Homo sapiens: one gene and its partner. The protein of the gene in region 2 interacts with the protein of the main gene of each other region in a pairwise test. Each region holds a gene or a part of one and is shown on either strand. Other genes may lie near its edges.

What was found.
Region 1: the proteins of DBH (region 2) and KLHL20 interact in binary tests that used the Homo sapiens proteins (3 or more experiments, as listed by UniProt).

The regions. Positions count from the first base shown.
Region 1 is NC_000001.11:173,752,953-173,759,980, reverse strand, and holds part of KLHL20 (kelch-like protein 20), read right to left. Parts: intron 6,769-7,028; coding exon 6,674-6,768; intron 4,059-6,673; coding exon 3,943-4,058; intron 3,006-3,942; coding exon 2,822-3,005; intron 1-2,821. UniProt on the Homo sapiens protein: Substrate-specific adapter of a BCR (BTB-CUL3-RBX1) E3 ubiquitin-protein ligase complex involved in interferon response and anterograde Golgi to endosome transport.
Region 2 is NC_000009.12:133,653,338-133,659,832, reverse strand, and holds the end of DBH (dopamine beta-hydroxylase precursor), read right to left. Parts: intron 5,247-6,495; exon of another isoform or gene 3,311-5,246; coding exon 3,183-3,310; intron 2,764-3,182; coding exon 2,604-2,763; exon of another isoform or gene 2,425-2,603; intron 1,518-2,424; coding exon 1,386-1,517; 3' UTR 504-1,385; downstream 1-503. UniProt on the Homo sapiens protein: Catalyzes the hydroxylation of dopamine to noradrenaline (also known as norepinephrine), and is thus vital for regulation of these neurotransmitters.

The sequences.
Region 1 (7,028 bases), on a different chromosome or scaffold from region 2:
TTGTATCATTTTTGGATTTCCTTGCCTTGGGCTTTGCCTTTCTCTGGTCCCTCCCTGATTAGCTTAATAACTAACCTCCTGAATTCTTTTTCAGGTAAATCAGGGAATCTTCTTGGTTTGGATCCATTGCTGGTGAATTAGTATGATTTTTTGGGGGTGTTGAAGAGCCTTGTTTTATCATGTTACCAGGGTTGGTTTTCTGGTTCCTTCTCATTGGGGTAGGCTCTGTCAGAGGGAAGGTCTAGGGATGAAGGCTATCGTTCAGATTCTTTTGTTCCACGAAGTGTTCCCTTGATGTAGTATTCTCTCTCTTTTCCTATGGATGTGGCTTCCTGTGAACCAAATTGCAGTGATTGCTGTCTCTCTTCTGGGTCTAGCCACCCAGCAAGTCTACTCAGCTCTGGGCTGGTAGTAGGGGATGTCTGCACAGAGTCCTGTGATGTGAACCATCTATGGGTCTCTCAGCTGTGGATACCAGCACCTGTTCTGGTGGAGGGTGCAATGGACTCCGTGAGGATCCTTAGTTTTGGTGGTTTAATACCCTATTTTTGTGTTGGTTGGCCTCCTGCCAGGAGGTGGTGCTTTCCAGAAAACATCAGCTGTAGTAGTGTGGAGAGAGACTGGTGGTAGGTGGGGTCCTAGAACTCCCAAGATTATATGCCCTTTGTCTTCCACTACCAGGGTGGACAGGGAAGGACCATCAGGTGGGGGCAGGATTAGGCATGTCTGAGCTCAGACTCTCCTTGGGCGGGTCTTGTTGCGACTGCTGTTGGGGATGGGGGAAGAGATTCCTAGGTCACTTGAGTTGTGTACCTAGGAAGATTATGACTGCCTCTGCTGAGTCATGCAGGTTGTCAGTAAAGTGGGGGAAAGCCGGCAGTCACAGGCCTCACTCAGCTCCCACACAAACTGAAGGGCTGGTCTCACTCCCATGGTCTCACTCCCACCGTGCCCCTCTCACAACTCTGAGTCTGTTTCCAGGCCACAGGCGGGCAGCAGGCTTGCCCCAGGCTATCCGCCTCCCAGCTGCAAGAGAAAAGGGCTTTAGTTTTCCCCCTGCCGGTGAAGTCTGCATGCAGGATTTGCACCCTACCTTGAGTTCTGGTCAGGAGGCTTCTCACCCTGTTCAAATTGTTACAAAGTTCAGCTAGAGAATTCCTTCTCCCTGGGGAGTTTTATCCCCTGCTCCTCTGGCCACCCTCCCAATGGATCCCTGTGGTGCCAGGCAGGAATGGCCTGCTTGGGGACCCAGCAAACTCCCAGGGCCTTTCTGCTGCTTCCTCTACCCCTGTTATTTCGCTTGCCTCTCTAACTTGACTCAGCTCCAGGTAAAGTTGGAAACTTCTCCTGCAAACAGACCTTCAGCTTCTCCAGTGGGGGTGTGTGTTTGGGAGAGGAGGGTCTCCCTTTCCCATTTCTGCAGTTGGGGCACTCCCAATATTTGGGGTTTCTCCCGGGTGCTGCAGGAGCAGTCCGCTTTCTTCAGAGGGTCTGTGGGTCCTCTTGAGATTGCTGATTTTTTCTTGCAGTCAGTCTGGAGCTAACATTTGCAATCAAGCCTCCGCATGTTGCCCGGTCTGGAGCTTCAGTCTAGTCCTGCCTCCCGTCTGCCATGATCCCTTCTGTGATGCCATCAATTTATTTTTTCCCTTCTGTGATGTCATCAATTTATTTTTAAGTGTGTGTGTTGTTTTCTTTTTCTTTTTTTTTTTGAGAGAGTCTTGCTCTGTCACCCAGACTAGAGTGCAATGGCGCAATCTCATCTCATGGCAACCTTTACCTCCCAGGCTCAAGCGGGCCTCCTGCCTCAGTCTCCTGAGTAGCTGGGACTCACAGGCGTGCACCACTACAACTAGTAAATTTTTGTATTTTTTGTAGAGATGAGGTTTCTCCATGTTGCAGTTGTTTTACTTCTATGGGACTGATCCCTCTGCTTTTTAAGATTTTTCCCCAGCTGCACAATCTATATCTTTAGAACTTGATATGCGGCAGCGTTTCATAGATGTGTTATGGAAACAAAGAGTCACTGTTAATCAACACAGCTTCTTGAGAGCAAGAAGCTATTGAAACATCAGTTACTAGAGATTCCCAATGTGCCCAGTCACTGCGATAGATATTATGGTGAAACACATTTCAACACGTATAGTACAATGTGATGGATATGTACAAACATGTTCAAAATACTTATGGAAGGGCAAAGGAACAAGTAACTAGTAACTAACTCATCTGTATGGTATCATAGAAAGTTGTATGTATTAAGTAACATTTGTGTCTTGAAGAAAATGTAAGTCTTTTTTTTCTTTTTTTTTTTTTTTTGAGAAGGAGTCTCGCTCTTTTGCCTAGGCTGGAGTGCAGTGGCGTGATCTCGGCTCACTGCAAGCTCTGCCTCCCAGGTTCTGGCCATTCTCCTGCCTCAGCCTCCCGAGTAGCTGGGATTACAGGCATGAGCCACTGCACCTGGCCAAAGGAAATGTAAGTCTTAAAGTGGCAGAAGTATCCCAGGGAAAAAAGAACAGCATGCATATATGTAAGGAGAGAGGTATGACTTGGAATGGACATGCAGCATGTCCAAGGAACTGCAGGCAATTTGATGTGTCTGTAGTAGCATGCTTAGGGAGTGGTAGTGTGTCATGGGAGACAGACTAGAAAAATAGGCGGAGACCAGATCATAAAGAATTTGTGTATCATACTAACTTGTTTAGGTTGCCAACTAGTGCCACAGATGCAATACTAAAGCATTAAATCAATTTGTTTCCTAATTAACATCTCAAATAAAACTATATGAATAGTAGAGAGAAAATTACAGATTGACCTTACTCACCTTTCAACACTATTGAGATAAGAGGATCCATCATGGCCTCCTACTGCATATAACAGATCATCAAGAACACTGACCCCAACTCCGCATCTCCTTTTGCTCATTGAAGCCACCATTCTCCATTCATTGGTCTGTGGATCATATCGTTCAACACTGGAAATGGCATCTCCACTGCACCAACCACCAACTGGGGAAGTAACAGAAATGGTCAAGAGAATCCTATCCTGAAGCATAAAATGTAACACTCACTACTAACTTCACTGTGACCTAATGCTTAGACTCACCAAATGTCTCTAGTAGTAGGTCAAAATGCAAGTTATGACTTCAACTCATTCCACTGGGATTGCTATAATCTTTAATCAATTCTGTAAATAAGTTAGTATTACGTCTATTTTACAAAGGAAGGCAATGATACCAATTCACATAGGATTATGAGATAATATGTATATATGGATAGAATGGAGAAATTATAGATGGATATGCATAGAATGGAGAAATAAATTATAATTGTTTAATGTTTTTTCACAATTCCATGTGATTATGGGATGAGCTGCACATTGATATATAAATTAATGCATGTGACTCATTTCAACAAAACATCTACTGCACGACATTTTTATTTTTTATTTTTTGAGACAGGATCTTGTTCTGTTCCCCAGGCTGGAGTACAGTGGTGCAATCACAGCTCACTGCAGCCTTGACCTCCTAGGCTCAAGCCATCCTCCTGTCTCAGCCTCCCAAGTAGCTGGGACTACAGACATGCACTACCACACTCAGCCAATTGTTTTTCTTATTTTTTGTAAAGATGGGGCCTCCCTATATTGCCCAGGCTGGTCTCAAACGCCTGGCCTCCAGAAAGCTGTATAGGCATGAGCCACTGTGACCAGCCAACATTTTTGGATTTATATAAAAATAGATATTAAAGGTGTTGAATGAGAAAAAAGAATAGAGCACTCTTTTGGAGTATATCAGTGTGGAATCATGGGTTATGAGTCAAGCTATATGCTGACTTATTATTTGTGTCTTATGACAGTAAATATCATAATTGTCCAAAGGATTTTTCAAATGACAGTTTCTCACCTGGGAAAATACTCAATTTACTAACAGTATATTAAGATCCAAACCTGCAAAGAGTACTTCCCCACATCGGATAGGTTTCCGTGGTCTCGTCCTTGGTCCTTGCATTAGTGGTCGTTCTTGCGGCAATAGGAGGTAGTTTTTAGCCTCATCTACCAAGTCTCTGTAGAAAAAATTCTGCCTTTATTCCAAATATCTAAATTACATTGTTAGTTAAGTCCCAATGTAGTTTAGGAATATATAGGTTGGCAAAGGGAAGCAAGCATAAATCAAACCAAATCATGAATGCCAGCCAATATTAAAATTGGCACAAACATGAAACCAATAATGCCAGTCAAACTGAGTTGTGAATTGATTGGTATTTCCATCATGACTCATGTCTCACTGCAAATTTAGCCTAAAGCTCAACATGCTTACAGCCAACAATAACTTATAGAAAAGTAAAAATTACAATTTGATTACCACACTGCAGAGTTACTACTTTTTAATAAATTTTATTAGATTCTGCAAGATATTAGCAAGGTAGCACATCAGCCAGGGCAATAGTTATTTGCTAGATTAAAGTAATAAAACTGGGTCAAAAATCGGATTGCTGAAAAGAAACACTGTACTGCCACAAATTTGCTATCTGGTAACATATGAATGGTTTACTCTCAACAAGTCTACCGAGACATATTTCCTGTCTTGTTAAGACACTTTAAGAGAAGAGTCTAGTAATTACACATGTAATGACTTTGCAGTGGCTCACGCCTGTAATCCCAGCACTTTGGGAGGCTGAGGGGCGGTGGATCATGAGGTCAAGAGATTGAGACCATCCTGGCCAATATGGTGAAACCCCGTCTCTACTAAAAATACAAAAAGTAGCTGGGTGTGGTGGTACGCGCCTGTAGTCCCAGCTACTCAGGAGGCTGAAGCAGGAGAATCGGTTGAACTTGGGAGGCAGAGGTTGCAGTGAGTCGAGATTGCACCACTGCACTCCAGCCTGGCAACAGAGCGAGACTCCGTCTCAAAAAAAAAAAAAAAAAAGACAAAGACTTTGATCTCCTAATAGCTTGTTAGGTCATTTGAGGGTTCCTACAAATAATACTATAGAGCTATAATATTGAGCAAACCAACACAAAATTAATGGTAGTAACAACACTTACAGCTATGTGCTAGTCCTGGTTTTAAGTGCTTAATAGATATAAACTCATTTAATCTTCACAACAGCCTTATGGAATAGGCACTATTATCATCCTCACTTTATAGAGGAAGAAACTGCAGCAAAAAGAAGTTAGGATATCAGGAAGGGTCTTCTTTTAAATATGACTTCATAAGTACTTTTACTTTCTGCATCAGAATCAGTACAATACAATCTGATTTACTTTTAATGGAGGAGGGCATCTATGTATTATTTCTTCAGATTTCAGCATGTATAATGTACATGGTTTTCCTTTTTGCTACTGCAAATATTTAGGAGAATTAATTGCCATTTGTCTGTGTGTTTTTTTTTTTTTTTTTTGAGACTGAGTTTCACTTTTGTTGCCCAGGCTGGAGAGCAATGGTGTGATCTTGGCTCACCGCAACCTCCACCTCCCAGGTTCAAGCAATTCTCCTGCCTCAGCCTCCTGAATAGCTGGGATTACAGGCATGCACCACCATGTCCAGCTAATTTTTGTATTTTTAGTACAGATGCAGTTTCTCCATGTTGAGGCTGGTCTCGAACTCCTGACCTCAGGTGATACACCCACCTCGGCCTCCCAAAGTGCTGGGATTACAGGCGTGAGCCACTGCGCCCGGCCTGTCTGTGTTTTAAATATAGAATACAAAAATCTAGTTTAACTCTAGTCTATGGTAAACTGAAAAATGAAGAATGATTAATATAAAAAAGATACAATAAAATAAAATAGAAACATCTAAAATCCCCTCCAGCCTCTCCTGTTAAAAGAACAGGCTTTAGTTTATAGAAGAAATGCAAGTGAATCTACATGTCCTACCACCATTCTAGAATCAGGGATCATTCTAAATGTCTTTAATCACCAAGGGAGGTTCAAAGGTCAGTGTAGTTTACAAAGTTCTGAGTATGGATTTTCTCTTTCACTTTTATATTTGGGACATGCTGGGGAAAAATGGTTAACAATCCCAGATGATTTCAGATTTGAACCTAAATCTTACAATCTGTCAAATTGGGAATGTAATTTATTACATTTTGTATATACTTTAAAGACAGCCTAGTAAAATAGGTTGCTTTTTTCCCCCCCTTTGAAAAAGTAGTTAAGAGTTTCTTTCGTCAAAAAACCTCTGGAAACTGCTTCACCTAGTTTTAGTGAAAATCTTTCTACAGCTGTTTTAGAAAGTGGCAGATCTTCAACTCTGTCCACAATTTAGAAAGCAAGGCTGATTCTATTCCCCAACCAGACATATGTGATGGAAGGAAAAAATGTTCATTGACAGAGTCAACAGCATTATTTAATTATCTCAAGGAAAAAAAAAATATTAGCAGAGAATTGACTCTTTAAATTCAAGCCTGCATTAAAATCTTGGAAATCTACCTTTTTATTGCCACTTCTACACCAGTAAGCACCACACATAAAAACCTAATGGAATGAAACACTGGAAGTTCAGTTCTCTCTTCTTCTTTTCCTCCTCTTGACTCTAGCCCAGAAGAAAACCTTGTTAAATTAAAGCCCTGGTTTCAGCTCTGCAAAATACAATATTTAGGAAGCAATACAAATAAGGAAATTAGGAAAAAATAGGAATGCTTAGTTGTTGATTTTTCCCATCCAGGGTCACTCATACCTGCATTCTTCATCACTTTTGATGAGGGGATCAGAGCCTACTGTGCCGACCAGGAACTTGGGACTAAGCAAAGGCAAACGAACATGCTGCAGCACCTATGAGAAAATAAACACCATTATTTTAATTAATTAATTTTGAGATAGGTCTTACTCTGTTGCCTAGGCTGGAGTACAGTGGCATGATCGTAGGTCACTGCAGCCTCAATCTCCTGGGCTCAAGTGATGTGCCTACCTCAGCCTCCAGAGTAGCTGCAACTACAAGTGCATGCCACCATGCCCAACAAATTTTTGTATTTTTTTTTTTGTAGAAACGGGGAATCACCACGCTGCCCAGGCTGGTCTCAAACACCTGAGCT
Region 2 (6,495 bases):
TGTCACCTAGGCTGTAAAGATGACAGAGGGCCGGAGTGGCTCTCCAGGCTGGGGCCTGGCATTTCACAGCGCTAGCGCCGTGACTTATGGACCACAAGAAGCTGTGATTTATACAACGTGAGGCAGAGCTCCTGGGCTCGTGACTTCCCTTCTGTGATGAAGTGAAGTGCCTTGCAGAAGCAGCAGCCGCTTAGCTGATGCGAGGGGACTCCGAGGCCCATCCATCTCCCTCTCTCCCCATGAGGCTGGGCAGCGTTTTGCTGAAGTGGCTGAACACAAGTGCATCTGTTACTGTCTCCAGAAACCATCAAAGAGCTGAACTTGTCCCTGAGAGGCAGCTCAGAGGGCAGGAAGGGGAGACCCACCCAGGCCAGCTGAGGCAGCTTCAGGACGCTCAGGGGGAAGCACTTGGTACCACGCCTGGCACAGGGAGGAGGCTCAGGAGCAAGCTTCTCTCTCCTGGAGCGACGGCCCGGAGTGCAAACATACCCACCTCCAGTGGGTGCCAGCCCAAGTGTGAGCTTTATTGGCTCATTAGCCCGCACGGCATCAGCCTGGTTTTACAGATGAGAAAAGTGAGGGTCAGGAATGTGAAATGGCCCGCCCAAGGCACACTCCCTAAGTGGCAGAACCACGCGGAAAGCACAGCCCTGACTCCACCCCGGTCTGTTCAGCGCTGGCCCCACCGGCAGAGAAGCAAGCTGGTGCTAATAATTCCACCCCACGTGGAACCGGCGCCCAGAAGCCCCGCTGGATCTTTGCCGCCTCGTCTTTTGGTGATAGTTGTTGTCAGGGCTTCCCTTTAGGTGGGCGAAAATATCTGTTTACTCAGGAATGGAGCAATTTCCCAGGCGAGTCTCTAACTAGCTAAATGCCTGGTCCTGCCTCCGTCGCAGGGAAGCCGCCCACTGTGAAACACGAGCCACTCAGCAGGGAAATGTTTAAGCGGCACCCGCACCCGCTGCACACCGGGAGCAGCGGGGCGGGGGCGGGGGCGTTCCCGGTGATTCCACACCCCGGCCCAGCATGGTGCCTGTCCCAGAAGCCAGGCCACACCCAGTGAGGCGGAACAGGGCTGGCGGAGGGCTGGACCCTGGACCACTGTGCAGGCTGTCCCTGCACTGAGTCAGCCGGGTTTAAATGGACGAGGTCGTGGTCCACTCGGTCCAGGGTAGGTCAACAGGGCACCCACACCCTCTCAGCCATGCAGGGGACCCTGGGGGAAGAAGGCTGGATTGGACCGTGGTCTCAGGCAGGGGCGTGGTCTGGCCCCTTCATCCTGGGCGTGCAGGGCTGTTCCATGGGGATCGTCGCAGAGTAGAGTGCACAGTGCCGGTGTGAGCCCACAGGGACAGCATGGAGGAGGGGGAGGAGTAGGTCCCCCCTCAGCCTTTGCCCCCACCAATGCTGACAACGGTGGGGCCAGCAGGGCTTCGGCCCTGGCTGGTGGGGCACTGTGGGGTGGGCTCTTCCAGTGTGGAGATGACCTTGGGCAGGGGCTGCAGGTTCCATTCACCCTGCAAGGAAGGGGGCAGGAGGTAAACTGAGGCTGGAGGGGCAAGATGGGTGGCTGCTTCCCCAGCCACTTCCCAGCCACCTCTTGGATTCTTGCCCTCAAACTCAGCTTGTCTCAAACTGAACTCACTCTGCTCCCCCAAGTTGCTTTTTGGGGGTCCTCACCTCAGTAAATGCCCCCTCCCCTGGCTTCCCATTCACCTAGTCAGGAACCTGGGAGTCATCCAGGCCTCTCCCCGCCTCTGTCCCCACCCAATTTAATCATTCACCCTAGTGTAGCAACCAGAGCCCCTGGCTGCAGGCTCTGATATTTTTTAGCTATCTCTTCCCCTCAAGGCTACACCAAATGCCAAGTTTTCAACCCCATCAGACGTCCACCCCACACTATTCTCAGCAAGCCAGTATTAGCCCTTCCTTCCCTTGGTGCTGAGGATGTTTGACTTAGCAGTTAATCTGGCTCCCAAATGCTTCTGGGAAGGATCTTCCTGGATCTCCAGGCTGCGGCACCTTACGCGACTAACTCTGCATAGGCCCTGGCCTCCTGACCACAGCCCAGTGGGCCCAGGATAAATTAGATGCCTTCGAATACCAGTGGGTCTCAGATAAGGAGGAAAAAACCAGCTCGCAGCTTCAGACTGGTTCGTTTCTTACCTTCCCCTCCCCTGGTGCTTTATTTTTAGGCAGGTTAGTGCGCCCTGCTCACACCACCTGCATTTGGCATTCGGTACAGTGTGGAGGTGTCACCAGAGAGGGTGCCTGCCCTCCCTTCCTTGCCTCGTTATTGGTTCTCTCTCTCTCCCTCTCTCTCTCTCTCTCTCTCCTCTCTCTCTCCTCTCTCCCTCTCCCTCTCTCCCTCTCCCTCTCTCCTCTCTCTCCTCTCTCTCCTCTCTCTCCTCTCTCTCCTCTCTCCTCTCTCTCTGCTGGCTGGCTGGCTGTCTAGGCCTATGTGTCACCACCTGGCACTTGCTCTCATTGTCTTGTGCGAGTGCTTTTGCCAGCAGTTTGGAGTGCAGACCCATCACCCCTCACTGGGGCCCCCCATGAGGCCTGCCTGACTGCATGCCCCACCCGGGCCCATGGCAGCGCACCTGGAAGCGGACGGCTGAGGACTTGTTGCAGTGCATGGAGATGGGCGCGAAGCTGTACAGGGCCTTCAGTACGTCGCGGTTGAAGGAGTTCCAGGGAACAGAGGTGAACTGCTGAGACACGGACGCCTGAGGGCAGGTGCAGACATCCTCGTTGTTGAACCTGGTGGGGACAAGGAACAGCCAGGCTGGGGAGCAGCTGACGGGCAGGGAGCCCAGTGGGCACCAGCAACACCTCCCTGCAACTCGAGTCCTGTCCCTGGGGCAACCGTCCTGCCACCTCCTCCCCAGCCCCGCTGCCTCCGCCAGGCCACCCCAGATGCTGCCTTCACCGGCAACGGCCTCACCTCTCCTGTCACCTTGGCGGGTGGGTAATGGCTGCTGCAGGCTGGGTTGAGGAGGCTCTGAAGCCAAATCCAGACTCAGCAGGAAACGAGTGAGGGGAGGGGTGAGTGATGCCGCCACAGGTCTCTGCTCCTAGAACTTAGCCTGGACTCCTCCAATCTGCCCAGCCGCCTAACAGGCCCGAGGTTCTGTGTCGGGGTTCCCTGGGGGCAGGGAGCTTGTGCAGGGAGCCCTCACCTGTTGATGAGGTGGAAGTACTTCTGCAGGAAGCCGGCGTCCACAGCGCTCTTGCAGAGCTCCAGCTGCGTCTGGGGGTAGTAGTGCACGTAGTTGACACACATCTCCTCCAGGATCCCGAAGCCCCCCTGCAAGTTGGAGGAGACCCGTCAGCCCCGGGCCATGCCACGCAGACGCTGCCATCCAGCAGCTTTCGCCGCACCCACGTGTACACTGCGTCCACTCGTCTGTTCACTGCACCGTGCCAGGCATGCTCTGGGGAACCGAGTCCCTGCCCTCAAGGAATTGCCACCATTGGCAGGAGAGACAGGCAGTGAGTGAGTGAGTCAACCAGGAAATTCGTATCAGGTACTGATGATGCTGTGAGGAAAAATGAAACGGGACAAGCGGATGGGGTGTTATTGTGCCCATTTTATGGGTACAGAAACTGAGTCTCAGAGCAGGCAAGGGGATGCCCCGTGGTGGCCACAGCATCGGTGGCACAGCCTGAGTGCACCCAGCGTCCCGGCCATTGTCTGGAAGCTGTCCCCATGACCTCCAGCGAGAGCCTGGAGCCAAGGACTGCAAGGGAGGCCCTTTCCACTGCAGCCCCGCACCGTCCACCAGTCATTTCTCCAACGTGGCTCTGAGGGGAGCAGGGACTCTATAAGACAGGACCGTGACTAGAGGCCGCGACAACCTCCAGCCTCTCACGGCAACCCTACGGCCTGCCATCGCATGGGAGGGGCAGGGCAGGCACCCTCTGAGTCCCCACTGCCAGCTTTAAGCCCCTCGCTGGGTTGCTGCTCTTGGAGCTGGTGACCGTGGAGCCTCAGCCATAGGAGGAAGAACAGCAGCAGCTTGGAGGAGCTGGGGCTGGAGAGAGCAAAGCTCCCCCGGCAGCAGCTCAGATCCCAGCAGGTCAGGGGCCGGGACATGACGCCCTGGCCACCCTTGCCCCTCCAGGCTCCCCGCTGTTTGTGAAGCTGCTGTGGGCCTGGGGATTTCATCTGGCTGGTGGGGAAGAAAGGCAATCTTTACTCTATGGCAGAACAAAGGGACTGGGCAAAGCTTGGCGTGGCACTTACACCAGCTGCCGCCCCCTCCTCCCGTGCAGACAAAGAGCATGGGACAGTTCTGCCCAGAGACGAAACCTGGCACCTGTTGGCCAGGACGCGTTTTTGCCAGCATTGTTCTCTGGGCCGGATTCCTCCTTTCCCAGCTTTTCTCATCCATCCCGCCCCCGTCAGATCGGGACGATTGCCCTCCTGTGTGAGTTCCTGTCCCTCCCCACCCTCTGCCACCACAGACATCAAAAGGGAACTGAGTCCGACCCTGTGTAGAATCTGTTCTCCTCTTTCACCTGGGGAAGGAAATCGAATTTCAAAGGCCACTGTGTCTTGGATCAGCAGGCGAGGGCTTGTCAGAGTGTGAGAAGCTCAGGTCCACCTGGGGAGCTGCCCTCCCCTTTGATCCCACCTGGTGCTGTGATGTGGCCACTGCCAAGAGGACGACATGGGCCAGGGAAGCCACAGAACTGCCCACGGGGACGCTGGCACCGAGGGCCTCAACCTGCAGAACGGCCATCTGAGATGTCCGCGGTGCTCACCAGGCCTGGCAGCCCCGAACGCCCTGGGACGTGGCGTCAGTTCCGCCGCCGTGAAGCCAGATTGGGCAGGGAATATGCAGTCTCCTCGCTGGATGCCCGGCAAGACCCTCCCATCCCTGGCCCCGGGGCCGCGCCTGCAGAATGGGGCTGATGGTGGGGACTTGCCTGGGGTGCTCCACCTGCAGAGCCCTCTGTTTGCGAGCCCACTCAGTCACTGCACAGGTGCTTAGCCGAGAGGCGGCACAGTCGGGGTTGGCACCTGCACCCATACCAGCCCTGCCTCCTGTTCGCTGTGTGGCCTGAGTGGCTGGACCTCACTGTATCTCCTGGTGGGATTGCTCAGAGGTCTCAGCAAGGCTTGGTGTGGTTAGGATGAGTTATTAGAGCAGTGCTGAGCTGTGGCAAGCACCCGACATCAGCCACTGCTGTGATATACTGAGCACCTCCTCTAGAGAGAATAAAGGACTGACAAAGCTGTCCTGTCTCCACCCTGAGTTTGTGATCAGGAACCTAGGACACTTGTCACCTGAAATCCAAGGGAGACAGGAAGGGTGGGGTAACAGCTGTGAGGCACAAGACCCTGGGTCAAATCCCAGCTCAGCCATCTATCAGCTGTGTGACTTTGGTCAAGTGCCTGCCCTCTCTGAGCCTTTATGTCTCACCTGTGAAAATACAAACACTGGCTGGGTGCTATGGCTCATGCCTGTAATCCCAGCATGAGGGATTACATGAGGAGTTTGAGACCAGCCTGGCCAACATGGTGAAAATCCATCTCTACTAAAAATACAAAAATTAGCCAGGCGTGGTGGTGGGTGCCTGTAGTCCCAGCTATTCAGGAGGCTGAGGCAGGAGAATCGGTTGAACTCGGGAGGTGGAGGTTGCAGCAAGCTGAGAACACACAGCCTGGGTGACAGAGCGAGACTCCGTCTCAAAAAAAAATAAAATATAAAATAAAATAAAATAAACCACTGGCAGTCTGGGCTCAGTAAACATCAGGTGAATCCACATTGGATTAAAACACAAAGAATAGGGCTGTGACATGGACCTGAGTTCCTGGCGCTGAGGGATGTCAGGGTAGCTGTAACCCAGGTCTGCTCCACTTGAGCCACACAATTCACAGGATAATTATTGGAGACCACCATGGTTACCGAAGCAGCTGGCACGGATCCACTGGCAAGGTGGCCCATTTGCCAGGACAGCCCTGGCTTGTGCCTGGGACCCAGGTAATTGTGAACAGCATCCCCTTTGGCTCCCGGAAGCAGCCCCGCTGCGTGATGCATCACGTGGCTGCCCGTGTCCTGGTGCTGCCTGCATACCCAGCCTTGAAAATAGATCTCTCCAGTGCAGATTCTCCTTGAACTGTCTGCAGTCCAGCCAAAATGCATCCTCAGCTGACGCTCATCCTGCCTGACCCCCACCCATGTCTCCACCCTCTCCTCCTCTCCTTTCCATCCTGAGAATGTTCTTGGTCCTCTGGGCCTTCCCGCACGCAGCCCCTGCACAGAGCCTTCCTTCACCTCCTCCCCTCTCCCCTGGGCTCCATGTGACAGCCACATTTCTGACAAGGCCCTCCCAGGTCCCCGCACCTCTGCCTCCTCAACCTGGTTTTTAAAGTTTTGTTTTGTAATTTTGCTTGTTGTTAGCAGCAGGTGCTCCAGGCCTGTCTCCCTGGTGCACCTTGAGCTCCACGGGGCAAAGGTCAACCTCTTGTCCTACAGCTTCTCC